Regions from separate parts of the Homo sapiens genome. Here region 1 is linked to region 2. Evidence: fine-mapped expression QTL. A gene starts in region 2. The other region holds a variant in brackets. All regions are shown on one strand. Distances are between the middles of the regions. Region 1 has its middle 54 kb from the start of KIAA0408. Region 2 holds the start of RNF146 (ring finger protein 146).

What was found.
Region 1: its variant is fine-mapped to the expression of RNF146 in blood mononuclear cells (TOPMed, PIP 0.97).

What each region holds. Positions count from the first base shown.
Region 1 is chr6:127,397,499-127,413,427 of GRCh38, forward strand. No RefSeq gene overlaps it. Among named protein-coding and RNA genes, the nearest start is that of KIAA0408, 54 kb to the right of the region's middle. RefSeq lists a silencer at 237-424 and enhancers at 6,743-6,852, 15,526-15,929. The variant A/G (reference allele first, on the strand shown) is at 7,553.
Region 2 is chr6:127,257,270-127,273,198 of GRCh38, forward strand. RNF146 (ring finger protein 146) reads left to right here and starts at 9,595. Exons shown (of 3, transcript NM_001242850.2): 1 at 9,595-9,656. RefSeq lists silencers at 9,554-9,653, 9,754-10,023 and an enhancer at 10,224-10,283.

The sequences.
Region 1 (15,929 bases), 140 kb after region 2:
GGCCACTGGAATGTGCACAGACTTGCTCGTTCCTTGCTTCTTGCTCTCCCAGGCTCATAAACATGTTCTCCATTATCTCAGGTAGCAGAACATATTACATTTGTGTCAAAGAAAATACTAAACAGTCACAACTGTGCTTGATGCACTGCTACCTTTCTACCCCCACGTCCTCACGTCCTCACCTGTTTACCCCCACATCCTCACATCCTCACCACCTGCTTCTTTGTTTGATCACCAATAAATAGTGTGGGCTTCTAGAGCTCCAAGCCTTCGCAGCCTCTATACTAGTGTTGGCCCCCTGGACCCACTTTACACATTCTTAACTTGTCTTGTCTCATTCCTTTGACTCCAACAGACTTCGTAGCCCACAAGGCCTGGTGTTGGGCCTGATCATCCCAATAGAGGTCAGCACAATATGTAGATCACAAAGACCTTGCTGATAAAACAGCATGTGGTAAAGAAGCTGACCACATCCAACCAATACCAAGATGGAGAGAAAGTGACTTCTGCTTATATTCACTGCTCATTATGTGCTAATTATAACGCATTAGCATGCTAAAAGACACTCCCACTAGCACCATTACAGCTTACAAATGCCATGGCAACAGTCAGGAAGTTACCCTATATGATCTAAAAGGGGAGGAACCCTTAGTTCCAGGAATTGCCCATCCCTTTCCCGGAAAACTCATGAATAATCCACCCTTTTTTAAGCATATAATCAAGAAGTAACAATAGGTATAGGCAGCTGAGGAGCTCTTGCCACTGCTCTGCCTATGGAACAGCCACTCATTTATTCCTTTGCCTTCTTAAACAACTTGTTTTCCCTTTACTCTACGAGCATGCCCTGAATTCTTTCTTGTGCGAGGTCCAAGAACCCTCTCTTGAGGTCTGGATTGGGACCTCTTTCTGGTAACACTTTCACAAACAGTTTGTCTATTATCAAGTAACTTTTTTTCCAAAACATGATCTTGTAAGTGCTTATAGCATAGCTTTCCAAATTGCTCTGTTGGACTGGACAAAAACAAAACCAAAACCAAAATAAACATTCTCCATATCCAAAAGTTACTAGCTCATACAAATATCTCTTTTAAATATGTTTAATTAGATGAATTATTTTTATATTATGTGATTTAAAAAGATGAGTTCAAAGGTTAAAAAAGTTTTGTTCTAATTTTTCATGGTGATCTAACTAGAAGAAAAAGGCCAACGAATATTGGTTGAATAAATAATAAAAAAAGGCAAATAACGTATTTCTGCATCTTTGCCCTACAGAAAGAAGGGTAATGAACAGGCTAACTTTGACTGTTTTTTTGTTTGTTTTTTATTTTGTTTTCATTTTTTTTGAGATGGGTTCTCGCTCTGTCTCTCAGACTGGAGTGCAGTGGCACGATCTCGGCTCACTGCAACCTCTACCTCCTTGGTTCAAGCAATTCCCCTGCCTCAGTCTCTCGAGTAGCTGGGATTACAGGTGCATGCCACCATGCCTGGCTAATTTTTTTGTATTTTTAGTAGAGAGAGTGTTTCACCATGTTGGCCAGACTAATCTCGAACTCTTGACCTCAGGCAATCCACCCGCCTTGGCCTCCCAAAGTGCTGGGATTACAGGCATGAGCCACCGTGCCTGGCCTTTTTTTTCACTCTTGTTGCCCAGGCTGGAGTGCAATGGCACAATCTCGGCTCAATACAACCTCCACCTCCCGGGTTCAAGAGATTCTCCTGCCTCAGCCTCCTGAGTAGCTTGGATTACAGGTTCCCGCCACCATGCCCAGCTAATTTTGTATTTTTAGAAGACACGGGGTTTCTCCACGTTGGTCAGGCTGGTCTCGAACTCCCAACCTCAGATGATCCTCCTGCCTCTGCCTCCCAAAGTGCTGGGATTACAGGCATGAGCCACTGTGCCCAGCCTAACTTTGACTGTTATAGACAGTATAACACGAATTTTAAAATATAAAATATTTTAAGGAGGAAGACTGCCCTGCCTTTCTCTAAGTTCACATCAATTTGGGTCCTGATACCAATAATAATGTTTTTGTTACATTTAACCCCAATTGGGATGAGGTTCTAAAGGACTTCCAGATCTGATCCTTTTCCTCTCATTTTTATTTCTACCTGCCTAGAGCTACAAATCAAATTTAATAGCTCAGAAAGGGGAGTGTTGCATCCCATCTGTTAGAAGACCAATTATATTGTTTATTTGTTTCTCCCCACTTGGCCAAACAATATTCTTTTACAAAGTTGATTTTCTTTTTTTTTTCCTGTATCTGTTATATCTTTGGCTGCTTGGCCTCATGGCTTATTAATACTTCTTGCCTTTTTGCACCTCAGCTTTACATGTTTTTGGTCATCCTCTGTGAGGGTGTTTATGCATTCTACCATCAGCTTTCTGTCAAGTATCTCATTACTGCTTTCTTAAGGACAATGGAGGTCCTCTCACCTGTTTATCTCTGTGGATGAGAACAACACTGTATCCTGGGTACAACCCTGGTGTTTAAACTCTTTATCAGGACATACCTCCCCCACAGAGTGTGTGTGTTATGGGGTAAAATGGAAGAGGAGGGAGACAAAAAAAGCAAGAGGGTTTCCTGCCTTCTTTTCTCCTGTTACCATTTTCATTTCACCCACTCAGTGTTATGCTTGTTCTACTCCAGGCCATGCTGAGAAGCATCTGCTGACCCTGACTCTCCCTGCTTCCCAGCCTGTTCCTTGAGAAGGGAACACCCTGTACAGATGCCTCAATACCTTTCTTCAAACTCTCCTTCTAGCAGGAAGGAAATTTACTTTACCCGCCCCTGTGATCAACCCCCAACCCCTATCCTATGCCCAAACATCCTGAGTGTTCTAAATCCTTGGGTTATTTCCTCAGTCTAAATAATTCATATTAAAAAGACAAAGATTCAGAATTTTTAAGCCATTCTTATCTGAATTTGTTACCTGTATTAGTTCATTCTTACATTGCTATAAATACCCGAGACTAGGTAATTTATAAAGAAAAGAGGTTTAATTGGCTCACCATTCTGCAGGCTGTACAAGAAACATAGCAGCTTCTGCTTGGCTTCTGTGGAGGCCTCAGAAAACTTACAATCATGGCAGAAGGTGAGTGGGGAAGCAGGCACATCTTACATGGCTGGAGCAGGAGGAAGAGAGACAGTGGGGTGGTGCTACACACTTTTAAACAACCATCTCTCTCAAGAACTCTATCATGAGAACAGCACCAAGAGAATGGTGCTAAACCATTCAGGAAGGATCCACCTCAATGATCCAATCACGTCTCACCCGGCCCCACCTCCAATATTGGGGATAACAATTTGACATGAGATTTGGACAAGGACACAGATTTAAACCATCTCACTTCCTCTGCTTGAGTTGACCAGACAATAATTCATACCAGTGGTATGATTCTATCAGGCTCTGTCTGATAGAATATGAGCCATTTACAATTCCTCTTCAATTTCTTTCTTTCTTTTTTTTTTTTTTTTTTTTTGAGATGGAGTCTCGCTCTGTTGCCCAGGCTAGAGTGTAGTGGCGTAATCTCGGCTCACTGCACCTCCACCTCCTGGGTTCCAGTGATTCTCTTGCCTCAGCCTCCCGAGTAGCTGGGATACAGGCGCCCGCCACCAAGCCCAGCTAATTTTTGTATTTTTAGTAGAGACAGGGTTTCACCATCTTGGCCAGGCCGGTCTTGAACTCCCTGCCTCGGCCTCCCAAAGTGCTGGGATTACAGGCGTGAGCCACTGCGTCCTGCTTCCTCTTCAGTTTCAAGATTGTTTCTGGGAGCTCTGATGTCCCTGATTTTATAATATACTCAAGGACTTCCATAAAACATGCAATATGGTTTTATGGGAAGTGATTTGAATGCTGCTGTCCATTACCTAATGTGACATTATTTTAGGAGAAAATTCTTTCCAGTATTCCAAGTTTCCGGAGGAAGATTTTTCTGGGTGTGATTTTCTGGGGTCTCTGAGATTGTGCCTGGTTCAAGGTGCTGCACTCTCTTCCTGTTCACAGAGCCCATTTCAATTCAGAGTCCTCCCCACCAATCAGCCTGCCCAGTCTAAAAATCTGCCTCATAGTGACTCTAAAGAAAAAGGCAGAAATCAGAAGACAGCATAGCCAATGGTGAACTTCAACTGAACCTAGGCCTATGCAGGTTCTTGAGCTACAGCCCTCGCCCCTGACATGTTCTAATGTCCAGTCAAAAAAAGGATGGAAAGAACAATGATTACAAGAAATGTTCTATTATGTGTCCTGACTCAGAAATAAAATGAGAAGGGGTAATAGCTAAAATTGGCTTTAGACTGCTTGCTGAGTAGTTTTATCTAAAATATGAAAGTAAATGAGGGCTATATATATATAATTTAAATAATATATTGTATTTAATGTAATATATACAAAAAATTATATCAATATCTAAACAATACAGAAGTGATTAATGAGATAATTTACATTCTCATTTATTGGTAGTGAGTCTTCAAAAATTTGTGTGTATTTTACATGTATAGCACATCATTAGTGGTTTTGCTAAAGATATAAAAAATAAATGTTATAAAATGTATGATAATTTATTCATTAAATTTATCTTTATTGTGTTACTCATCACATCACCTGTCTATCAACAAAACACCCTGATATGTGTAACAGTAATTGAATTCAGTCAAATTTGGTATTTTGCATACTTTCAGTCATATAAAAACCATAGTGTTTACACATATTTTGCAATTTTGTTGCTATGATGGTGACATATAGATTATGGGTCTCTTTTTGTACTATTGCCCTAAGCCCCACAAATGTTAGGGGCAGGCCTGATTTCTTTCTTTCCACCCTACAACCAAGTACAATTGGATAAGAGACTCCAGGAGCCCTCATCCTCTTTCCTGACAACACTTATCACCATGCCTTCTTATTCCTGAATATTGTCTGACATAACCTATAATTATTTTCAACCTTTTCCCTTTTAATGAATAAATATTTAAACTAGTGTAGTGTCTTTTTTCAATCTATGGGTTCTTTCACTTATATCATCTATTTGATGTATAACGAATTCCACAAGGTAGGTAGTAGCACATAAGGAAAGAGGCTGAGAAAGTTCAAGTGATGTGACTCACACTTAACAGTTAGTATCTCTGCCGGGTGCAGTGGCTCACACCTGTAATCCCAGCACTTTGAGAGGCCAAGGTGGCTGGTAAATCACCTGAGGTCAGGAGTTCGAGACCAGCCTGAACAACATGGAGAAACCCTGTCTCTATTAAAAATACAAAATCAGCCGGGCGTGATGGCGCATGCCTGTAGTCCCAGCTACTCAGGAGGCTGAGGCAGGAGAATCGCTTGAACCCAGGAGGCAGAGATTGCAGTGAGCCGAGATGGCGCCATTGCACTCCAGCCTGGGCAACAAGAGTGAAACTCCATCTCAAAACAAACAAACAAACAAACAAACATCCCAAACAATTAGTATCTCAGGGCTTCTCATTCTAAGTTCTTGCTCTTTCAAATGTATTTTGTTTCCTCATTTTGGGTGTGATTTAGACCAGAGGAAATGGGAGCCAGGAAGCCTTTTAAGTGGAGCAAAAGCATGAGCAAAGAAGTAGAAAATAGCAGTTCAGTTGGGCCGAAGCCCGTGGTCTGTGTTAAGGAAAGATAAAAAATGTGGGAAAGAACAGAGCTGTATTGATGAAGCCTTGGATGTCAAAGTTGGGATTTTGCATTTTATTCTGATGACTGAAGCAATATTTTTTAGAGAAAGTAATTGAAATAAAGAAGTTTTATTTTTTATTGATAAAAATGTCATCAATGTACTCGAGAGGAAGCTGGTATTCATCTGAGTAGGAGAAGGAGGACAGATCAGTAGTTGAACTTGCACTTGAGATGAGAAGCATCTGCCACCCACACCTTCCTATTGTTCTACCTTCCTAATCCTGACCAGCTGTTTCCTTAGTGTGTACAACTGGTTGTACGGGTGGCAGGGTTACAGAGGATAGATGGGTCAGTTCCAACTTGTACCATTTTTTTGCCACATGCCCAAATGAGGATGAATTAGTCACATTTTTGCACACTAAGGACAAGGCATTTATTTTTTCAACTGATATATAGTATTTTTATAAACTTCTGGCTTAAGAGGCAGACAAAAATTATATGTTTAGATTTTTTTAAAAAATTATCAACATGGCAGAGTAATCACTTTAAACCCTGTGTGAGATCATGCCATGTCTTTGCTTAAAACCCTGAAATGGCTATTTTACTCAGGGTGCAAGCATAAGTCCTTAAAACATCCTACAAGGCCCTACACAACTTGGTTCCTTATTACCTTTCAAGTTTCGCTTCTATTTCTGTCTCTCTTGCTCACCCTTTGCCACACTGGAGTCTTTGCTGTGCCTCTGACACACTAGGCACATTGCTGTCTCAGGTTGTTTTAACTTGCTATTTCCTCTGTCTAAAACAAGCTTGTCTAACCCATGGTCCGTGGGCTGCATGTGGCCCAGGATGACTTTCAATGCAGCCCAACACAAATTCATAAACTTTCTTAAAACATTATGAGATTTTTTTTGGTGACTTTTATTTTTAGCTCATCAGCTATCATTAGTGTTCGTGTATTTTCTGTGGCCCAAGACAGTTCTTCCAGTGTGGCCCAGGGAAACCAAAAGATTAGACACCCTTGGCCTAGGGCACTCTTCCACAGATACCAAAAGAGTTTACTTCCTCACCTCCTCCTGGTTTTTGCCCAAATATCCTCTTCTCAGTGAGGGAGTCCTCTCTAATCACTCTTTAAATGGAATCCTCACCCCAGCATACCCTATCTCTTTCTGTTTCATTTTCCAACATACCATCTGACATTCTGTATCTTTTATTTATGTATTGTTTTCAGTACCTCTTCTGGTAGAAAATAAGCACCAAGGGAAGGTATCTGAGCAGTTTTGTTCATGGTCATGTCTCTCAAGACCTTAGAACAGTGCCTGACACATACAGGTGCTTGATAAATAGTTGTCAAAATAAATGAGGCCTTTTACTTCCTGATGGTTGGGCATAACATCTTTTTGAACATCTTAGTTTATTAAAGAAATTGCTAATCTTCTTATTCATTTCAGTGAATCTAGAGAAATTTCTTCATCCTCCTGATTATTTTGGGTTTCTGAATTAGATGTTTTATTTTTATTTTTTTTCCTGGGGTTGGCAATGTCACCAGGGTTTTAATTAGTGTGACTAAAGATGAGCTGTTTTCTTCTAGATCAGAGACTGGGGCATGTCAAAGCCTGGGTGTAGTGAATTTTTATAATTTTATGTTGCCTTGGCATCCATTTTGAGTATAAGTTTAACTTCCTCATACTAGAATCAGGGGTTAGTCACCCTTGAAACAGTTTGCAGTTCTATACCATGCCCAAATGGCTCAAGCCAATGGCCAAAGCTAAGAACTTCTGGATGTCTCCCCCGCTAGCAGATTGTACTCCCTGCTTTCCCACTGCTTCCTTTAAACAGACCATATAGGCATTTGCCTGTGAACTTAGTAACCTACAGCCTAGTCCGTTGTCTATCCTGCTAGTTGCCACACACACTCTTTCTCAAT[A/G]CCTAACTCTTCATGTTCTCCTCTTGTGCCAGGGGATGGAAGATTGCCCTCCAGATTCATCGCACCCTTCTTGCCCAGATTCTGAAAGTAAAAATCCTTGAACTTCCTATTTTGGTGGTGGTTTGAATTTGCTCCTTCCATTCTCAAGAACCAAACTGCAGGCTGGGTTTTCCCTGGGATGTCAGGACTAACACACAGTTGACCTCTCAGCCCCAGAATGATGGTTAGGTAGGCATACACTAAACACAGGTCAGATAAGAGCCACAAGAGTGTCTTCCAGTATAAATAAGTTTTCCATGTGAGGAACCCCTTGTCATTGGTCAAACAACTAGACATTATGCTCTTTGCTAGGTGAAAGACCCACGTCCAACTCCCCCTCATTTATCTTAGCAGGGCTGCCAGTGGGGCAGGGTTGCTAGCCACTCTGCTACTGGAATCCTAGTTTATCTGTGGGATCCCAAGACAATGGGACCTTGTGAAATCTCTATCTGCTGGCTGGGATATGGATACTGTCTGTGATCAGATATATTATTACTCATTCTGTCTAGTCTGTCATTTTCACTCTGATTATATCTTACCTGTATGTATTTAATTTGTGCTATTACAATATTGTTTTATGCTCACCAACCTCCTAACTTTGGAAAGGATTCAAAGCATGTATATTTTCTGTCTGTAGCCAGTTTTTATACTTGAAGGCAAAGGACCAGTTTTCTATGATGTTCAAAATGATAGTGTGTACAGAGGCTCAATAAATGTAGGTTGACTTGGTGCAGTGACTACTGTCTTTTAATGCCACAGAAATTATTGTCATAACACATGGGTATCAATCATACCAAGCTATATAAGATCCATACAAGAAGAAATAAATTTTTTATGTCCTGAAAAATATCAAGAAATATGGAATCAGAAAATGGAAGGAAAGGAATAATTAAGAGTCATTTTATATTATATGGCTTCAATGTTTATATCTAATTATTTAAGCATTGAAAACATTTCAGAATGCAGATTATCCTAATGTGTTTTGCTTTCATATATTTTATAAAAGTAATTGGTATAATATTCATCAAAACCATTTTAGTGATCTCTTCAAATCCATAGATTCTCCTTACACTTCAGTGCCAGAGAATTTTAGAAGTAGGACCAAGGTCTGTTGAAGAAAATACTAGTGACGTGGCCTTTATTATGTTGTCTCAGCAAGGTTGAAGATAACGATTTCAGCCCTGATCTATAAAGATAAAGAGGCAATGTTTTCTAACACAAGATCTCACCTATTGGTAAGTCTTAAAGCCCCACCCTAACAGAGTATGAACCAGTTGTTACTGCTATCTCATTCATTTCCTCTCTGCCATGCTTCTTCCCGGTTTCTTGGTTATCTCAAGGCCTTTGGGAAACAAGACTGTTCTTCAGAAAATGTTTGAGGTCCTTGAATACAGAGACTATTTACTAGAGATGATAATGACCCAAGTTTCTTATATTAAAAACAACAACAACAACAACAACAACAATTCTTTGAATTTCTGGGCACTGCTACAAAGAAAGAGTTGACATAAGTGTATATCTTTGTTTTAAAATATACTCTAAGTTCTAGGGTACATGTGCACAACATGCAGGATTGATACATAGGTACACATGTGCCATGTTGGTTTGCTGCACCCGTCAACTCATCATTTACAATACGTGTTTCTCTTAATGCTATCCCTCCCCCAACCCCCACTCCGTGACAGGCCCCAGTGTGTGATGTTCCCCGCCTTGTGTCCAAGTGATCTCATTGTTCAATTCCCACCTATGAGTGAGAACATGTGGTGTTTGGTTTTCTGTCCTTGTGATAGTTTGCTGAGAATGATGGTGTCCAGCTTCGTCCATGTCCCTGCAAATGACATGAACTCATCCTTTTTTATGGCTGCATAGTATTCCATGGTGTATATGTGCCACATTTTCTTAATCCAGTCTATCATTGATGGACATTTAGGTTGGTTCCAAGTCTTCGCTATTGTGAATAGTGACACAATAAACATACATGTGCATGTGTCTTTATAGTAGCATGATTTATAATCCTTTGGGTATATACCCAGTAATGGGATGATGGCTGGGTCAAATGGTAATTCTAGTTCTAGATCCTTGAGGAATCTCCACACTGTCTTCCACAATGGTTGAACTAATTTACACTCCCACCAACAATGTGAAAGCTTTCCTATTTCTCCATATCCTCTCCAGCATCTGTTGTTTCCTGACTTTTTAATGATTGCCATTCTAACTGGCATGAGATGGTATCTCATTGTGGTTTTGATTTGCATTTCTCTGATGACCAGTGATGATGAGCATTTTTTCACATGTCTGTTGGCTGCATAAATGTCTTCTTTAGAGAAGTGTCTGTTCATATCCTTTGTCGACTTTTTGATGGGGTTGTTTGATTTTTTCTTGTAAATTTGTTTAAGTTCTTTGTAGATTCTGGTTATTAGCCCTTTGCGAGATGGGTAGATTGCAAAAATTTTCTCCCATTCTGTAGGTTGCATGTTCACGCTGATGGTAGTTTCTTTTGCCTTGCAGAAGCTCTTTAGTTTAATTAGACCCCATTTGTCTATTTTGGCTTTTGTTGCCATTGCTTTTGGTGTTTTACTCGTGAAGTCCTTGCCCATACTTATGTCCTGAATGGTATTGCCTAGGTTTTCTTCTAGGGTTTTTATGGATTTAGGTCTAACATTTAAGTCTCTAATCCATCTTGAATTAATTTTTGTATAAAGTATGAGGAAGGGATCCAGTTTCAGCTTTCTACATATGGCTAGCCAGTTTTCCCAGCACCATATATTATATAGGGAACCCTTTCCCTATTTATTATTTTTGTCAGGTTTGTCAAAGATCAGATGGTTGTAGATATGTGGTGTTATTTCTGAGGCCTCTGTTCTGTTCCGTTGGTCTATATATCTGTTTTGGTACCAGTACTATGCTGTTTTGGTTACTGTAGCCTTGTAGTATAGTTTGAAGTCAGGTAGCATGATGCCTCCAGCTTTGTTCTTTTTGCTTAGGATTGTCTTCTCAATGAGGGCTCTTTTTTGGTTCCATATGAACTTTAAAGTAGTTTTTTCCAGTTCTGTGAAGAAAGTCATTGGTAGCTTGATGGGAATGGCATTGAATCGATAAATTACTTTGGGCAGTATGGCCATTTTCATGATATTGATTCTTCCTATTCGTGAGCATGGAATATTCTTCCATTTGTTTGTGTCCTAATTTACTTTGTTGAGCAGTGGTTTGTAGTTCTCCTTGAAGAGTTCCTTCACATCCCTTGTAAGTAGGATTCCTAGGTATTTTATTCTCTTTGTAGCAATTGTGAATGGGAGTTCACTGATGCTTTGGCTCTCTGTTTGTCTGTTAATGGTGTATAGGAGTGATTTTTGCACACTGATTTTGTATCCTGAGACTTACTGAAGTTGCTTATCAGCTTAAGGAGATTTGGGGCTGAGATGATGGGGTTTTCTAAATATACAATCATGTCATCTGCAAACAGGTACAATGTGACTTCCTCATTTCCTAATTGAATATCCTTTATTTCTTTCTCTTGCCTGATTGCCTGGGCCAGAACTTCCAACACTGTGTTGAATAGTATTGGTGAGAGAGGGCATCCTTATCTTGTGCCAGTTTTCAAAGGGAATGCTTCCAGTTTTTGCCCATACAGTATGCTATTGGCTGTGGGTAAATAGTTCTTATTATTTTGAGATACGTTCCATCAATACCTAGTTTATTGAGAGTTTTTAGCAAGAAGTGCTGTTGAATTGTGTGGAAGCCCTTTTCTGCATCTATTGAGATAATCATGTGGTTTTTGTTGTTGGTTCTGTTTATGTGATGGATTACATTTATTGATTTGCATATGTTGAACCAGCCTTGCATCCCAGGAATGAAGCCAAATTGATCATGGTGAATAAGCTTTTTGATGTGCTGCTGGATTCAGTTTGCCAGTATTTTATTGAGGATTTTCACTTCGATGTTCATCAGTGATACTGGTCTAAAATTCTTTTTTTTTGTTATGTGTCTACCAGGCTTTGGTATCAGGATGATGCTGGCCTCATAAAATAAGTTAGGGAGGATTCCTTGTTTTTCTATTGATTGGAATAGTTTCAGATGGAGCAGTACCAGCTCCTCTTTGTACCTCTGGTAGAATTTGGCTGTGAATTCATCTGGTCCTGGACTTTTTTTTGGTTGGTAAGCTATTAATTATTACCTCAATTTCAGAGGCTGTTATTGGTCTATTCAGAGATTCAACTTCTTCCTGGTTTAGTCTTGGGAGGGTGTATGTATCCAGGAATTTATCCATTTATTCTAGATTTTCTAGTTTATTTGCATAGAGGTGTTTACAGTATTATCTGATGGTAGTCTGTATTTCTGTGGGATCGGTGGTGATATTCCCCCTTTATCATTTTTTTATTGCATCTATTTGATTCTTCTCTATTTTCTTCTTTATTGGTCTTGATAGTGGTCTATCCATTTTGTTAATCTTTTCAAAAAAACAGCTCCTGGATTTGTTGAATTTTTGAAGTGTGTTTTTGTGTCTCTATCTCTTTCAGTTCTGCTCTCATCTTAGTTTTTATTTCTTGCCTTCTGCTAGCTTTTGAATGTGTTTGTTCTTGCTTCTCTAGTTCTTTTAATTGTGATTTTACGGTGTCAATTTTAGATCTTTCCTGCTTTCTCTTGTGGGCATTTAGTGCTATAAATTTCCCCCTACACACTGCTTTAACTGTGTCCCAGAGATTCTGGTACATTTTATCTTTGTTCTCATTGGTTTCAAAGAACCTCTTTATTTCTGCCTTCATTTAGTTATGTACCCAGTAGTCATTCAGGAGCAAGTTGTTTAGTTTCCATGTAGTTGTGTGGTTTTGAGTGAGTTTCTTAATTCTGAGTTCTAATTTCATTGCACTGTGGTCTGAAAGACAGTTTGTTGTGATTTCTGTTCTTTTACATTTGCTGAGGAGTGCCTTACTTCCAATTATGTGGTCAGTTTTAGAATAAGCGCAATGTGGTGCTGATAAGATTGTATATTCTGTTTATTTCGGGTGGAGAGTTCTGTAGATGTCTATTAGGTCTGCTTGTTGCAGAGCTGAGTTCAGGTCCTGGATATCCTTGTTAACCTTCTGTCTTGTTGATCTGTCTAATATTGACAGTGGGGTGTTAAAGTCTCCCATTATTATTATTATTATTATTATTATTATTATTATTTTTCTTTGAGATGGAGTCTCGCTCTGTGACCCAGGCTGGAGTGCAGTGGCGTAATCTCGGCTCACTGCAAGCTCTGCCTCCCGGGTTTATGCCATTCTCCTGCCTCAGCCTTCCGAGTAGCTGGGACTACAGGTGCCCGCCACCACGCACGGCTAATTTTTTGTATTTTTAGTAGAGACGCGGTTTCACCGTGTTAGCCAGGATGGTCTTGATCTCTTGACATCGTGATCCGCCCACCTGGGCCTCCCAAAGTGCTGGGATTACAGGCGAGAGCCACTGTGCCGAAGTCTCCCATTCTTATTGTTTGGGAGTCTAAGTCTTTTTGTAGGTCACTAAGGACTTGCTTTATGAAGCTGGGTGCTCCTGTATTGGGTGCATATATATTTAGGATAGTTAGCTCTTCTTGTTGCATTGATGCCTTTACCGTTATGTAATGGCCTTCTTTGTCTCTTTTGATCTTTTTTGGTTTAAAGTCTGTTTTATCAGAGACCAGGATTGCAACCCCTGCTTTTTTTACTTTCCATTTGCTTGGTAGATCTTCTTCCATCCCTTTACTTTGAGCCTATGTGCATCTCTGCACATGAGATGGGTCTCCTGAATACAGCACACTGATGGATCTTGCCTCTTTATCCAATTTGCCAGTTTGTGTCTTTTAATTGGGGCATTTAGCTCATTTACATTTAAGGTTAATATTGTTATGTGTGAATTTGCCCCTGTCATTATGATGTTAGCTGGTGACTTTGCCCATCAATTAATGCAGTTTCTTCATAGCATCAATGGTGTTTACAATATGGCCTGTTTTTGCGATGGCTGGTACCGGTTGTTTCTTCCCATGTTTAGTGCTTCCTTCAGGAGCTCTTGTGAGGTAGGCCTGGTGGTGACAAAATCTCTCAGCATTTGCTTGTCTGTAAAGGATTTTATTTCTCCTTCACTTATGAAGCTTTGTTTGGCTGGATATGAAATTCTGGGTTGAAAATTCGTTTCTTTTAGAATATTAAGGCCAGGTGTGGTGGCTCACACCTGTAATCCCAGCACTCTGGGAGGCTAAGGCGGGTGGATCACGAGTTCAGGAGATTGAGACCATCCTGGCTAACACAGCGAAACCCTGTCTCTACTAAAAATACAAAAAAAAAAAAAAAAAATTGCCAGGCGTGGTGGCAGGTTCCTGTAGTTCCAGCTACTCAGGAGGCTGAGGAAGGAGAATGGTGTGAACCCAGGAGGCAGAGCTTTCAGTGAGCTGAGATCTCACCACTGCACTCCAGCCTGGGTGATAGGGCAAGACTCCATCTCAAAAAAAAAAAAAAAAAAAAAAAAGAATGTTGAATATTGGCTGTACTCTCTTCTGGTTTGTAGGATTTCTGCCGAGAGATCCGCTGTTAGTCTGATGGGCTTCCCTTTGTGGGTAACTCGACCTTTCTCTCTGGCTGCCCTTAACACTATCCTTCATTTCAACCTTGGTGAATCTGGCAATTATGTGTCTTGGGGTTGCTCTTCTTGAGGAGTATCTTTGTGGTGTTCTCTGTATTTCCTGAATTTGAATGTTGGCCTGCCTTGCTAGGTTGGGGAAGTTCTCCTGGATAATATCCTGAAGAGTGTTTTCCAACTTGATTCCATTCTCCCCATCACTCGCAGTTACAGTAATCAAACGTAAATTTGGTCTTTTCACATAGTCCCATATTTCTTGGAGGATTTGTTCACTTCTTTTTACTCTTTTTTCTCTAACCTTGTCTTCTCGCTGTATTTTATTAATTTGATCTTCAATCACTGATAGCCTTTCTTCCACTTGATCAAATCGGCTACTGAAGTTTATGCATGTGTCACGAAGTTCTCGTGCCATAGTTTTCAGCTCCATCAGGTCATTTATCGTCTTCTCTATGCTGTTGATTCTAGTTAGCCATTCGTCTAATCTTTTTTCAAGGGTTTTAGCTTCCTTGTGATGGGTTCAAGCATCCTCCTTTAGCTGGGGGAAGTTTGTTATTACCAACCTTCTGAAGCCTACTTCTGTCACCTCATCAAAGTCATTCTCCGTCCAGCTTTGTTCCGTTGCTGGCGAGGAGCTGCAATCCTTTGGAGGAGAAGAGGCACTCTGAGTTTTAGAATTTTCAGCTTTTGTGCTCTGGTTTCTCCCCATCTTTGTGGTATTATCTACCTTTGGTCTTTGATGTTGGTATGTTGGTGACCTACAGATGGGGTTTTTGTGTAGGTGACCTTTTTGTTGAGGTTGATGCTATTCCTTTCTGTTTGTTAGTTTTCCTTCTTTTTTTTTTTTTTAGTTGGAGTCTCGCTCTGTCACCCAGGCTGGAGTGCCCTGGCGCGATCTCGGCTCGCTGCAAGCTCCGCCTCCCAGGTTCACGCCATTCTCCTGCCTCGGCCTCTCTAGTAGCTGGGACTACAAGCACCTGCCACCACACCTGACTAATGTTTTGTATTTTTAGTAGAGACAGGGTTTCACTGTGTTAGTCAGGATGGTCTTAATCTCCTGACCTCGTGATCTGCCTGCCTTGGCCTCCGAAAGTTCTGGGATTACAGGCATGAGCCACCATGCCAGGCCTGAGCCACTGCGCCTGGCCAGTTTTCCTTCTAACAGTCAGGTCCCTCAGCTGCAGTTCTGTTGGAGTTTGCTGGAGTTCCACTCCAGATGCTGTTTGCCTGGATATCACCAGCGGAGGCTGCAGAACAGCAAATATTGCTGCCAGCTCCTTCCTCTGGAAGCTTCGTCCAAGATGGGCAGCCACCTATATGAGGTGTCTGTTGGCCCCTACTGGGAGGTGTCTCCCATTTAGGCTACATGGGGGTCAGGGACCCACTTGAGGAGGCAGTCTGTTCGTTCTCAGAGCTCAAACACTGTGCTGGGAGAACCACTGCTCTCTTCAGAGCTGTCAGACAGGGACATTTAAGTCTGCAGAAGTTGTCTGCTGCCTTTAGTTCAGCTGTGCCCTGCCCTCAGAGGTGGAGGGAGTCTAGAGGCAATAGGCCTTGTTGAGCTGTGGTGGGCTCCGCCCAGTTCCAGCTTCCCGGCCACTTTGTTTACCTACTCAAGCCTCAGCAATGGCAGATGCCCCTCCCCCAGTCAGGCTGCCATCCTGCAGATTGATCTCAGACTGCTGCACTAGCAGTGAGCAAGGTTCTGTGGGTGTGGGAGCTGCCAAGCCAGGCATGTTAGAGAATCACC
Region 2 (15,929 bases):
TATTCAGGAGACCCATCTCACATGCAAAGACACACACAGGCCCAAAATAAAGGGATGGAGGAAGATCTACCAAGCAAATGGAAAGCAAAAAAAAAAAGCAGGGGTTGCAATCCTACTCTCTGATAAAACAGACTCTAAACCAACAAAGATCAAAACAGACACAGAAGGCCATTACATAATGGTAAAGGGATCAATTCAACAAGAAGAGCTAACTATCTTAAATATATATGCATCCAATACAGGAGCACCCAGATTCATAAAGCAAGTCCTTAGAGACAGACAAAGAGACTTAGACTCCCAAACAATAATAATGGGAGACTTTAACACCCCACTGTCAATATTAGACAGATCAGCGAGACCCAGGACTTGAACTCAGCTCTGCACTAAGTGGACCTAATAGACATCTACAGAATTCTCCACCCCATATCAACAGAATACACCTTCTTCTCAGCACCACATTGCACTTATTCCAAAATTGACCAAATAGTTGGAAGTAAAGCACTCCTCAGCAAATGTAAAAGAACAGAAATCACAACAAACTGTCTCTCAGATCACAGTGCAATCAAATTAGAACTCAGGATGAAGAAACTCACTCAAAACTGCACAACTATATGGAAACTGAACAATCTGCTCCTGAATGACTACTGGGTAAATAATGAAATGAAGGCAGAAATAAAGATGTTCTTTGAAACCAATGAGAACAAAGACACAACATACCAGAATCTCTGGGCCACATTTAAAGCAGTGTGTAGAGGGAAATTTAAAGCAGTAAATGCTCACAAGAGAAAGCAGGAAAGATCTAAAATCGATACCCTAACATCACAATTAAAAGAACTAGAGAAGCAAGAGCAAACAAATTCAAAAGCTAGCAGAAGGTAAGAAATAACTAAGATCAGAGCACAACTGAAGGAGATAGAGACACAAAAAAACCCTTCAAAAAATCAATGAATCCAGGAGCTGGTTTTTTGGAAAGATCAACAAAATGGATAGACCGCTAGCAAGACTAATGAAGAAAAGAGAGAAGAATCAAATAGACACAATAAAAAATGATAAAGGGGATATCACCACCAATCCCACAAAAATACAAACTACCATCAGAGAATATTATAAACACCTCTACACAAATAAACCAGAAAATCTAGAAGAAATCGATAAATTCCTGGACACATACACCCTCCCAAGAGTAAACCAGGAAGATGTTGAATCTCTGAATAGACCAATAACAGGCTCTGAAATTGAGGAAATAATTAATAGCCTACCAACTAAAAAAAGATCAGGACCAGACGGATTCACAGCCGAATTCTACCAGAACTACAAAAAGGAGCTGGTGCCATTCCTTCTGAAACTATTCCAATCAATAGAAAAAGAGGGACTCCTCCCTAACTCATTTTATGAGGCCAGCATCATCCTGATACCAAAGCCTGGTGGAGACACAACAAAAGAGCACTTTAGACCAATAACCCTGATGAACATCGATGCAAAATCCCCAATAAAATACTGGCAAACCGAATCCAGCAGCACATCAAAAAGCTTATCCACCACGATCAAGTGGGCTTCATCCCTGGGATGCAAGGCTGGTTCAACATACCCAGATCAATAAATGTAATGCCATCACATAAACAGAACCAATGATAAAAACCAGATGATTATCTCAATAGATGCAGAAAAGGCCTTTGACAAAATTCAACAGCCCTTCATGCTAAAAACTCTCAATAAACTAGGTATTGATAGAACAGATCTCAAAATAATAGGAGCTATTTATGACAAACCCACAGCCAATATCATACAGAATGGGCAAAAACTGGAAGCATTCCCTTTGAAAACTGGCACAAGGCAGGGATGCCCTCTCTCACCAGTCCTATTCAACACAGTGTTGGAAGTTCTGGCCAGGGCAATCAGGAAGGAGAAAGAAATAAAGGGTATTCAATTAGGAAAAGAGGAAGTCAAATTGTCCCTGTCTGCAGATGGCATGATTGTATATTTAGAATACTCCATCGTCTCAGACCAAAATCTCCTTAAGCTGATAAGCAACTTCAGCAAAGTCTCAGGATACAAAATCAATGTGCAAAAATCACAAGCATTCCTATACATCAATAACAGACAGAAAGCCAAATCATGAGTGAACTTCCATTCACAATTGCTACAAAGAGAGTAAAATACCTAGGAATCCAACTTACAAGGGAAATGAAGGACCTCTTCAAGGAGAACTACAGATCACTGCTCAATGAAATAAAAGAGGACACAAACAAACGGAAGAACATTCCATGCTCATGGATAGGAAGAATCAATATCATGAAAATGGCCATACTGCCCAAGGTAATTTATAGATTCAATGCCATCTCCCTGAAGCTACCAATGACTTTCTTCACAGAATTGGAAAAAACTACTTTAAAATTCACATGGAACCAAAAAAGAGCTGGCATTGCCAAGACAATCCTAAGCAAAAAGAACAAAGCTGGAGGCATCACATACCTGACTTCAAACTATAGTACAAGGCTACAGTATATACAGTCGACAGAGATATAGACCATTGGAACAGAAAAGAGCCCTCAGAAATAACACCACACATCTACAACCATCTGATCTTTGACAAACCTGACAAAAACAAGAAATGGGGAAAAGATTCCCTATTTAATAAACGGTGTTGGGAAAACTGGCTAGACATATATAGAAAGCTAAAACTGGATTCCTTCCTTACACCTTATACAAAAAATTAATTCAAGATGGATTAAAGACTTAACTGTTAGGCCTAAAACCATAGAAACCGTAGAAGAAACCTAGGCAATACCATTCAGGACACAGGCATGGACAAGGACTTCATGACTAAAACACCAAAAGCAATGGCAACAAAAGCCAAAATAGACAAATGGGATCTAATTAAAGAGCTTCTGCACAGCAAAAGAAACTACCATCAGAGTGAACAGGCAACCTACAGAATGGGAGAAAATTTTTGCAATCTACTCATCTGACAAAGGGCTAATATCCAGAATCTATAAGGCACTTAAACAAATTTACAAGAAACAAATAAACAACCCCATCAAAAAGTGGGCAAAGGATATGAACAGACACTTCTCAAAAGAAGGGATTTATTCAGCCAACAGACACATGAAAAAATGCTCGTCATTGCTTGTCATCAGAGAAATGCATATCAAAACCACAATGAGATACCATCTCACACCAGTTAGAATGGTGATCATTAAAAATTTAGGAAACAATAGATGCTGGAGAAGATGTGGAGAAATAGGAATGCTTTTACACTGTCAGTGGGGTGTAAACTAGTTCAACCATTGTGGAAGAGAGTGTGGCGATTCCTCAAGGATCTAGAACTAGAAATACCATTTGACCCAGCGATCCCATTACTGGGTGTATACCCAAAGGATGATAAATCATGCTACTATAAAGACATGCACACGTATGTTCACTGCAGCACTGTTCACAATAGCAAAGACTTGGAACCAACCCAAATGTCCATCAATGATAGTCTGCATTAAGTAAATGTGGCACATATACACCATGGAATACTGTGCAGCCCTAAAAAAGGATGAGTTCATGTCCTTTGCAGGGCCATGGATGAAGCTGGAAACCATCATTCTGAGCAAACTAGCACAAGGACAGAAAACCAAACACCGCATGTTCTCACTCATAGGTGGGAATTGAACAATGAGAACACTTGGACACAGGGTAGGGAACATCACACACTGGGCCCTGTTGTAGGGTGGTGGTTGGGGGAGGGATAGCATTAGGAGAAATACCTAATGTAAATGACGAGTTAATGGGTGCAACAAACCAACATGGCACATGTATACCTATATAACAAACCTGCACGTTGTGCACATGCACCCTAGAACTTAAAGTATAAAAATATATATATATAGACTCTATAAAACAGAAAAAGAAAATAATTTATCAGTTTTTGCCAAAAGACAATAGAAGTTATGAAATTATAGGTATTTATTCTTATGCTTTCTAGTAGACTGAATGAGAGGCTCTGGCGGAACTAGCTCAGAATTTGAGACAGGTCAAATAATGTAATTGTAATAGCTAAGGTTTTTCAACCTTGGCCAAGTACTTTATCTTAAATTTCATTATCAAATCTCTGAATAGAGGTGATAATTTACCCGTTTTATGGCTACATATAAAAAAATTGACATTTGGATACAGTAAGTAGCATGCCCGAATTAGTTTATGGCGCTCCTGATCCTAGGACTCATCGTGTCTTTACTGAACCTTTACTGATGCATGTCCATATTCCCCTCAGCTGGTCTCTCTCTCTTCACCGTGGTTCTACTCTGGGCTACCTGTGAACACTGGTAACCTCAATGAGTTGCAGTTGTCTCATAGAACAATGATGAAAAGATATTCGTGGACCTGGATCATTATGGTGAAAAAAATGGTTTGTTAAGAGCTTAGAAAATAATAGGCAATCAATTATTCTAGTTCTTTCCATATTTCAGAATATATATCACCTTGAGCAATATAATAAATCATTTTTCAAACTTTTTGAACCACATATTTGATGCCCAGTCTCACAATGGCATTTCTATGTTCTGCTTTATATCTAATGGAGCTGGAAAAAGTTGTTTTTGAGAATCCTTTGACAGATGGTTTCTTGTTTAGTTTTGTCAATTGAAGGCAATCACATGGAAAAAGTAAGTGGAAAGGAGAAGGTGATTTCTTTCCTATTCGTTTCTGGTTCTGACATTGGAGTGGTAGGTGACTGCTTATGGCTGTGAGTTCCTGGACTTCTGCAGGCTCAGTGTGCATATGGGACCCTGACTTCCTATTATAGCAGTTCATAAAAAGTGCTCTAGCAGCCTCCAGGAGCTCCCAGAACACCCTTTGCTCCTCCAAACTTAGATGAGCCAGTGACTTTCTGCAGTTACTGATTTCAAGGTATCTTCATCTTTCTTTTTTGGTTCCTCCAGTTTTCTAACACTTTCACCACCATTTCACTACATTAGAGTCTCTGTCTGAAATACTTAAGGTGGTTTTTGTTTTCCAAAGAGAATCTTGCTTGACAAACTTCTGTGAAAATACTTCAAACTTTTAGGTTATAATTATATTAAACTGATACAGGAAAATGTGACATTGCAAAACATAGTTGCTGCCTTGATGACCTTAAGCAATTTCCTTTATGTGATGGAGTACATTGTTTAAGGGACTATTTTGTTAAAATAATAAGCTAGCTTAAAAAACCTCCACTGTTAAAATACAGCATTTATTCTTATCTTTTAATACTATGGTCAATGAAAGGTTATGTCATTTAATGAAACAAGCATGGACTTTGGAGACATCAGAGCTACTACTGTCAATATAAGACATCTAAAAATTAATAAATACATATTATATACATACAACCAGGTTAGGAAATAAATGCATCGTTGACTTTATAGTCAAACTATAAAGTTTAACTCAGTGACTCTTGGGGCTATTTTCTAGCCATACATTATCCTAATTCAGTTGTAATGTCTGTGGGCAACGCAGGAACATTAAGAACCATTAGAAGAGAAAGCATTGATAATCACAGTAGGTAAAAGAAAAACACAAGCTAAACTGGCTAGTGTACTATTATTTGCAAAGGAGTTCTACTAGAAAATAATATACTGTTTGATTACTGTAAGTAGAACATCAAATGATAGGACAGAAACCAACCTATGTATCAGCTCTGGAAACAAAGTTTTTAATTAAAATAAACAAAGTTTGCTTTCCAAAGCTTCCTCTTGGTTTGATTTCCATTCATCTGCTAGCTATAATGACTGGTACATTCCTGAATCTGGTTTGTTCTGTTTCCAGGCATATGAGAAAGTTGTGTCCACAGCTATCAGATGGTTGCCGGCATGTGAAAAGGGAAGAAATTTAACTTAGAGTTGGTAAGCAAAATAGCCCCAGACAAGCATTCTTATTTGGTCTCAGGACCCTTTGACAGTGCTAATTTATAGAAGACCCCAAAAAACTTTTATGAGCTAATCAATATTTACCAAATTAAAAGTTGAAATTGAGAATGGTTTACAATATATACTAATTCATTTAAAAATGACTCATTGTATTAACATACTTTATTAAAAAAAAAAACACTACATTTTCCAAAACAAAGCTAACTGAATGAAAGAAGAGTGCAGTTTTACTTTTTTTTTTTTTTTACATCGTTTTAATGACTGGTTTAATAGATATAGTCAAATTCTCATATCTGCTTCTATAATCAATCTATTGCTACATCACATACCATGTAGCTTCTGGAAAACTCCACTGTACATTTGAGAGTGCAAGTAAACAAAGCAACTAGAGTCTTAGTATTATTATAAGAACAATTTTCCCTCAGACACTCTGCAAGAGTCAAAGGACCCCTATGGGTCACTAGATAACACTTGGAACACCGCCGCCCTAAACTAGCCACGAGTGGTTTCAACGTACATTCTATTGTAACACATCATTTTCTCATGCATTTTCATGGATGTCTTCAGATATTAAGTAAACAAAAAAAAATGCTTTGATCCTTAAGTAAAACAAATAACATTGGACAATTTTTGAGTGTTGGAAGGATAAATGGAGAAGAGTAGGTGCCTGGAGATGTGTGGTATTCAGCAAAGTATTTTGTAAGTTGTGGGAAATAGACAATAAGCTATAAGCAAACAGGCAACTGGGTAATTCCTAGCAGTCAGCTGCAACTTCTTTACCTTTGATTCAATGAAGCAAAATGGAATCCCAGTGACAGTAACATTATTACAGAAATACATTGAAACTGTTAGGCTCTGATTTATTTAAGCAAATAATTTGAAGTTTTGGTACTTAAAATTACTGGAAACCAGTTACTCTTAATTACTGGAAACCAGCACTCTGACAATGTTGAGAGGTGCTGTCCTGTGTTATTCAAAGATATAAACTTCTATCTTTCTTTCAAGTGGCTGATGGAGGTAGGGTGTATAGTATTCCATGCATTCAATTCTGCTTTTCATATGCAACTACTGAAAAATGAGAAGTTCACTTTTATTCATATATATATACAAATGGGGATATATTCATATATATATATAAATGGAGATATATATATATTCATATATATATATAAATGGGGATATATATACACACTCACATACACAAATGTGGTTTTTGGGGTTTTTTTGAGACGGAGTCTTGCTCTGTTGCAGTGCAGGCTGGAGTGCAGTGACACGATCTCGGGCAACTTCCGCCTCCCAGGTTCAAGCGATTCTCCTGCCTCAGCCTCCCGAGTAGCTGGGATTACAGGCGCGTGCCACCATGCCCAGCTAATTTTTTTGTGTTTTTAGTAGAGACAGGGTTTCACTGTGTTAGCCACGGTGGTCTTGATCTACTGACCTCGTGATCCGCCCACTTCGGCCTCCTAAAGTCCTGGGATTACAGGCGTGAGCTACTGCCCGGCCATGTGTGTATTCATTCATTCATTCATTCATTTACTCATTCATGTAACACATATTTACAGAGAACCTCTTTAAGTGTGTCAGGCACTATTCCTGGCAGTTGAGATACAAAACAGAACACACATTCCTGGCCTCCTGTGTCTTGCGTCCTAATGTGATGAGAAATATGATGAAGATTAGTAAGTAAAATAAATTATCCATTACACTGTGATAAGTATTAAAAAGTAAAGGAGGAAATATGAAATATTGGGAATGGAAACATCATGACTTAAAATATGCTGACAAGTAGAGGGACTGACTGAAGAGTTGGACATCTGAGCACATATGGAGGGAGCATGATGGGGAAGAGTGTTCTAAGCAGAGGAAACCACAACTGCAAAGACTATGAGGTTGGCAGCTTGTGGAGAGCTTTCTGGGAATACAAAGCTGGGTAAACAGTCTGTGGGGTCAAAGAGGTAATGAGGGGAGGATTTTAAAGCCATCGTTAGGACTTTGGTTTTTACTTGTGTTGGGAAGCCACAGGAGACTTTGAGCAAAGGAGTGGTACGATCTCACTTCTTTTTAAGTAGATTTATTTAGGATTCTGTATTAAGGATAGAGTCAAAAGACTAGTTCCTGGTCTACCGTAACACTATAATCCAAACAAGAGATGATGCAGATTGTAGCGGAGGTGGTAAGTAGTTGGATATACTTTGAAGGAAGAGCCAACAGGTTATATGCCAAATGCATATAAGACATAAAAGAGAGGAGTTAAAGGTGGGTTTGAACAAGGAAAGATGCAACCATTTACTGAAATACAAAGACCTTGGGTATGAGTGAGAAGGGGTTGAACTAGCTGACATCTTACAGTCTGTGCCTGGATTCAAATCTCAGCTGTGTGTGTCTCTCTCTCTGTAAAATGGGAATAATAATAGTGCCTACCTCATAGTTTATTATGAGAATTAAGTGGGTATATATGAATAAAGCACTTAGAGCAACACCTGGCACATTGTTAGTTAATATTAGCATTACCTCTTCAAGCTGGAATCTTCGAGTACATATCAAATTTTAGCTATTCTCTGTTCATGGGCTGTGTAGGATAGAGGGACAAAACTGAGTGGCTAATAAGAAGATAAAGATAGAAAACTAAGCTTAAAGTTAAAGGATATACACTTCAATATTTCTACATGTATGGAACAGTATTGCATACACGCGCAAGCATCACTGAACTAGATGCACCCTTCAAGAGATTGGGTTACATATTGATATATATGAATGAGAACCCTGAAATAAACTGATTTCAGAGGAATAACAGAAAACATATACATTTCTATACCTATAAGGACACTGAAAACTTCCAATCCTGAATCAAACAGTTAATGAAATCCCAAAATGCAACACTAATGCAAATGAGAAGACGCTGTCATAGAATGTTGAAATACATACTCTTCTAAAGATAAAAGGTCTGCTCTTCCACCCTCTTCATTTTCCTACAAATTAGGAAAATTTAATCAGTTCTGAAAAAGGAAATGTACATGCTAAAATGGTGAATTACTGCTAGAGTTCTGATGTTTAAAACCACAGGCTTGCGATCAAAATAACCTCTTTAATTTTAGATTATCATGCAGATTAATTTCTTCAGTTTCTCAGGCACTATTCTGTTTTTTTTAAAAAAAGGGTGGGGTTTCAAAAGAAAACTAATACTCATTTTTTCCCCGATTAAATTGCTCAACCATTAAAAAGGAGAACAAATTGGAAAGTCCTACAGTACTCTCTCCCCTCCGTCCCCCCCCTCCCCATTTTTTTTCTTGAAAGGGAACAAGCAGTACTTTTGCTAAGGGATCTTTAAGCCGAAACTCAGCTAGGCGCCCCAGAGCTTCCTCAGGATAGCAAAGCTGGATTTTTGAGCAGCACCACCTGCTGGTCCTACACACGTTTTACTTCCTCCACCCCAAATCTCTTTCTGTTGGAACTGCACTCTTTCAGAGCCTCTGGGCCCTAATACAAAGCAAGCACACTCTAAAGAAGCCAGAAGAATGCAAGCAGCGAAGTCGCCGCTCCCCACAGGCAAGAGAGTACCGGCAGACAGCGGCGCGAGACAGGGGCAGAACGATGAGGCGCCGGAGTTAGCTCGCCGGTGCGGGTGCGGGTGCGCGGCGCGTCGCGGCCCCTCCTCCGCGACGCGCCGGGTGGTCACGTGACGGCCGCGCGCGTTCCCGGCAGCTGCGGGCTCCGAGGCCAGAGAGAAAAGACTGCGAGGTGGCCGCAGCTGTGGCCGGAGAGGTGGGAGTCGGAGCGAGGCCCTCTCGGGGGAGCAGGGTGAACGCCGGCCACTCTAGGATCCTCACTCGGGGAGAGGAGGCATAGCTCGCGGTGTCACCTCCAGCCGCAACGTACTCCGGGTCGGCCTTGCGCTCGGGGCCTGAGAGGGGCGGCGGCGGGGTCAGGGGCCGGTACGTAGATGGACGCCCTTGGGCTGGCGCGGCCCCGGCTGTCCGCGCAGAGGCGGGATGGGACAGTTCAGCCCTTTCCGCCACCCCCGCCTTGGCTGCTGGGGCAGGCAAGACGACCGTGACAGCCCCTGCGCTGCCCGAGGGCGCCGCAGCCCCTGCCCTGGGTGACGGCCGGAGCTGGTCTCGGTCCGGGTGCGAGGGGCGGAGCAGCGGCCATTACTGCGCAGCCTCTTCCGCCTGAGCCCGCTTCGCTGCCTCGGGTGGCAGGCGGGTCCCTCTCCTCCCCTCTGGGCCGTGGTTTTAGGCCTTTACCCGGGGACCTTCTGGCCTCGAGGTGTAGGGGCGGCGATGGTTTTTCGGCGGTAGCCTGCTCCATGTTTTCCCGTGTGGGGTCAGACAGTTTGGGCCTTGGGTCAGATCGAAGCCAGGGCGTACAGTCTGCATTTTTGCCTTTTCCCGGAGTGTCTCTGGCTGCTGCTTTCTCTTCTCTCGCTCTTCCTCCTTTTTTTTCTCCTGCTCAGTGTCTCGGTCTTGCCTAAAACGAAGAGAGCAATCCCTGCACCTTGTCCTAGTGAAGCCCAGCGCTGCATATTCTTAGTTGTTTTTGACGGCTGTTGAAGCATCGGAACAATTAAGAGATCTCAGAATATCCCTTGAGCCTCCAAACCCTCTGCATCTTAAAAGCTGAGGCTGTTGCTTTGTTCTGATTGTTGGGTGGGGAGTTCTCTTCCTACCCTCCATCCCGTCTGAAGGAGTGTGGGTCTTCCATTGTTGTCGCTATTTATTTTGCTAAGGCTTCTAAAGAATGTAAAATTGTTTTAAGAGTGGAGACGGAACCGTCCTCTCCACAGGTAAAACCTACAGGACTGTAAGTTTACACACACATCCTGGCAACTAGAATCTTTTCTCGTTAATCATATTGGTATATGTTTTAATTTATTTTCTCTAAGTGCCATTTTAGTGAGCACTTATTTCTCAAGTTTTGAACATTTTGTTTAATATTTTTGTAATATCGAAACAGTGTAGAACTGAGGAGAGAAGAAAGCCCAAAGATGATAGGGTACGCTTTGTTCTTTGTATGATTGGCATTTCAGGTAGTGGGCACATCCCCCCCACCTCGTGTGTGTACTTTTCAAATGGGATGTGAACGTATAATATTGGCATTCAATCCAGTATATAATTATAGAATTTGGAAGACTTAGGACATTTTAGTCAGTGAATCTATATTTAGACTTTTCAAAGACATGGCACGTAAGGACACGTGGAGAAAATGTCCCACACAGATAACAGGATTTGTGATTTTGGCTTTGCTGTTTTATGATTAGCAAATATTGTTTGTATAGAGTGTCTGGGTGCCCTAAAAACACATGAAAATAGGTCAACTAAATCTCGTTTTAAAGAGAAAACCGGAAGAGTGAACACCACTCTAAAAATAGATTTTGGATGTGTTTGTTTTGGTGCCTTGTATATCTTAAAGTGGAGGATGTTGTTCAGCCCAATCTTTCATTTAGAATTTATGTCTCAAATGAGCCAGTGTATCATGTGGGCAGACTGGAAATACATTTAAATATTTTTTTTCTTCGCTGGTTGTTCAGAACTTGGTAGAATTATAATTATCAGGAAAACTCTCTCCAAATAGCTGGTCTTTTAGACAAGAGAAGAAAAAAGAAATAACTTCTTTTAAAAGGAGATGTCAACTTACAAAGTGTTTTGTTTCAGTCTCCACCAACCTAACTTGTCAGAGGAAAGGAACAGACTTTTTTTTTTAAAGGATCCAAAACGATATTTTGAGTCAAAAGAAGAAAAGGATATTAAATCTTTTGTTTTCACAATATCGATCTTTTTAAAGAATATTATTTTATATGTTAACCATATACTACCAGGAAACATCTAACAGCACTGACAGTTGGGAATTCGAATGCGTATTTTTCTCCCGTGTTAGTAATAGAAGGTACTGAGCCTTTTCCATTCTCTTGGTTGCCTTGTGCCTGAGGAATCTGAATTTGTGAAACAACATCTTTGTGGATATAGAAACTAATTTATGTAACACTTGGCTACAACCACCTGTGCTTACTTACGGACTATCTTTAGTTTTCATGGCGTGTTACCTTTTGGGTTAATTCAAATCCAAAATGTTGTTAACGGACTGCTAATTAAAGCATTTAGAACTTAGAATTACAGAATTATAGAGTAGGATGAGATAACAAAAGACTGGGGGTTATGACTTGACCAAGGTCACACAGATAATTTGCCAAAGAGCTTTCTTATTTATGAAATGGTTGCTGGCTAAGAAACATCTGTGTGTGATATGATTAAAAGACAATATTCGTTCACTTTTACATCTCATGTTTTGAAATAAAATGCAAAGCTCACTTTTTTGTTGTTTTGAGAAAAATTAAAGGGTTTAATGGGCTAGTATAAAGATTGTGAAGGCAGTAAGTAGACTGCCACATAGTAACGTCTTAAAGGGAAATAATTCTTTAAAGTATCAGACCCCATTTAGTTGAAATGAGTTTTGTCTGAAGTTTCCAAGTATGACCTATGCTTTTTCTTAGCTAATTTTTAGCAGGAGATGATGAGGGCTAAAAATTGAGACATTAGGGCATTTAGTTACATCTCTCAATTTGTGACTGGTTTATAAAAAATACTAAGATGTGTCTGCTAACTCACACCTGATTTATCTACTCCTTTTATGTATATATAATTTTTTTTGAGTTGTGTACCAAAAGTTGGAACATTTCAAGTATTTTTTCTTTCTGTCACTGAGTGATTTCATGTAGAACATTTACTGTTTTGTGTATTTTGAATAAATGGCAAAAATCTTATTAAACATTAGCTGTTAATAATTAGAAAAATACAGTAAGTCTTCAAATATTTATAATTGATATTTGTCTTTGTTTTTATATGTATTTATATTGATGTTATATGCTCATCTTTTTCTTTGATTAAAGATAATCGCTTGCTTGAATCTATTACCTGAAAAAAACTCTTGACTTTGATCTTGTGACTGACTTGAAAAGTGGGAGTATGAGTATTTTGAGTTGTTACAAATTATAAATGGTACAATATTACTTCATTTTTAGTTGTATTTATTTTTCACTTATTTGAATGGGTCAAGATTTAAATTCATTGATAATCCCTAAACCCCTTTGTGTATTTTTAAGTTTTACCTGTCACTGTTTTTTTCCTCCAGAATTGTTAGGGGCAAAGTATCTAATTTGGTTTTAGACTTTTTCTTTTTTTTATGTTACCTTCTTCATACATCATCATATTAAGTTTGGTGTAAAATTTACAGGTCATTCATTCCAGTAGGAATTATGTATGTTTGAGTTATTTATGTTTGGCAAATTAATTCTGGCCTGTAGTTGAAATCATACTGTTCTGTTTTACATCCCCCTATTGGTTAAAATAAAAGCATCCCTTCTCCTCCAACTTTAAAAAAACTTTGGTTTCAAATAATGTGGGAGTTTTCTGAGGGCTTCTTCACATGATTGTTATAAGTATTACATGTATGCCCTATTTTGTGCCCAGTTGAAATTATAGTTGACCATTGAACAAAGGTTTGAACCGTGTAGTTCCACTTATACAATACTTTTTTTTTCTGCCCCTGCCACCCCTGAGAGAGCAAAACCAATGTTTCTTTCTCGTCCTCCTGAAAAAGATGAAGGCCTTTATGATGATCCATTTCTACTTAATGAATGTAAACATATTTTTCTTCCTTATGATTTTTTTTTTTTTTGAGATGGAGTCTTGCTCTGTCATTAGGCTGGAGTGCAGTGGTGCGATCTTGGCTCACTGCAACCTCCACCTCCCAGATTCAAGAGATTCTCCTGCCTCAGCCTCCCAATTAGCTGGGACTACAGGTGTGCGCCACCATGCCCAGCTAATTTTTGTATTTTTAGTAGAGACGGGGTTTCACCATGTTGGCCAGGATGGTATTGATCTCTTGACCTCATGATCTTCCTGCCTCAGCTTCCCAAAGTGCTAAGATTACAGGCGTGAGCCACCGCACCTGGCCTCCTTACGATTTTTTAAATAATGTTTTCTTTTTTTTAGTTTATTGCAAGAAAACAATATATAATACAACATACAAAACATATATTAATCCACTGTTTATGTTATCAGTAAAGCTTCCAGGCAATAGTAGACTATTAGTAGTTAAGTTTTTGGAAACTCAAAAGTTTACATGGAATTTTGACTGCGCAGGGTGTAGACATTCTTAACTCCTCACATTGTTCAAGGGTCAACTGTATAAATTCTGAGAGTTAATAGGTGATGGGTCAGTTTGGCAGAATTGGGGCTACCTAAACCCATTAACTTTGATTATAACAGAATATGCAGTTTTCTTTTTTAATGTGTCTTCGGCAAAAGTCTAGGTAAATTAACATTGAATTCATTGTCTCTATTAAACAATTCCTGTAGTGACTTGTCAGTTTTGTATTTAACAAGATTAATATGCAAGACATTCTAGACCAGCATTGCCCAGTAAAGTAGCCACTAGCCACATGGAGTTATTGAGCACTTGACATGTATCCAGTCTGAATTAAGTTGTGCTGTAAGTGTAAAATACACACTGGATTTCAAAGAAGTATGCATACGCTTACCCAAGAACATAAAATATTACATTAACAATTTATATTGAAACATACTGAAGCAGTAATGTAGAAACGTTGGATTAAATAAAATATATTATTGAAATTAATTTTACCTGTTTCTTTCTATTATTATTTTTGTAGAAATGGGGGTCTCACCATCTTGCCCAGGCTGGTCTATAACTCCTAGGCTCAAGCCATCCTCCTGTGTCACTACCCACAAAGTGCTAGGATTACAGATGTGAGGCACCATGCCCTGCCTCTTTTTATTATTAATGTGGCTAATAGAAAATTTGAAATTGCATACGTGGCTTGCATCATATTTCTATTAGATAATACGTGACCTTTTCTGTGAGAGACAATACATTGTAGAAAGACATTTTTAAAGGTAAATTTGAATTTGAATCGCATCTCCCAATATTGATGGCTTTGACTTTGGGTAAGTCATTTAACTTCCTGAGCTTAGGCTTCCTCATTTGTGAAATAGGTATAGTCATATTTCACAGGGTTGTTTTGAGGATTCAGTGACATATGGATTTGGTAGTGTTTCACTAACTAATATATGTGAATCACTTGGAGATCTGGTTCTGTAGGTCTAGGGTGGCACTTAGGATTTTCATTTGTGAAGAGCTCCCAGGTAGTGCTGATAGTACTAGTTGGGAATCCCAGTTTGTTTGTATAGCTAGGATCTAGAGCATTATGTTAGTTTTAATTCATTTTCCTTCCCCAGCATTTATCCAGTTAGTCTGCACTTTGAAAAAATTATTCATGAGGATATAGAAATTGAAAAAGTCACCAAAGCATGCAAGATTTACTAAAATTATATGAACTGTGGACTCTTAGGGCTGCTGTAGGATTCCTGTTTACATCTGTTAAGTTTTTTGTCTGCTTTTATCTGGAGTCACTTTTATTGGTTGCATAAGATGGCTAAATCTCAGCCAAGAAGAACCTGGTTGTGTTGTTCTACGCAAATGTATTTTTGAAAGATAATGCATAATGAGAGGTGAAATAAAAGAATGCTCAAAGACAATAAGAGGGCAGTACAATTGACCCTTGAGCAACATGGGGTTAAGGGTGCCAACCCCTTGCACAATTGAAAATCTGAGTATAAGTTTTGACTTCCCCAAAATTTAACTACTAATAGCCTACTGTAAAGTCAGTTAACACGTTGTTTGTTATATGCATTACATACTATATTCTTACAATAAGCTAAAGGAAAATAAATTCCTAAGGAAGAAAAAATACATTTACAGTACTGCATTTACCGATACTGTGTTTATGTTACCTGTTTATAAGGTGTCTGTCTGAAATGATGGGTAACTGCAGCTGCAGACCCATCTAGGGTGTGTACCAGGTAATTTAACTTCTTGTAATGGCATGACTTCTTGGCTTCTTGGGAGCACTTCTAGCATCACTAGTGGCACTTCACATGGGTCCCATGGTGTTATTCAAGGTTTATGGTATTGTACTAAACATGATGAAAAATACACAAGAACAAGAGATTACATTTT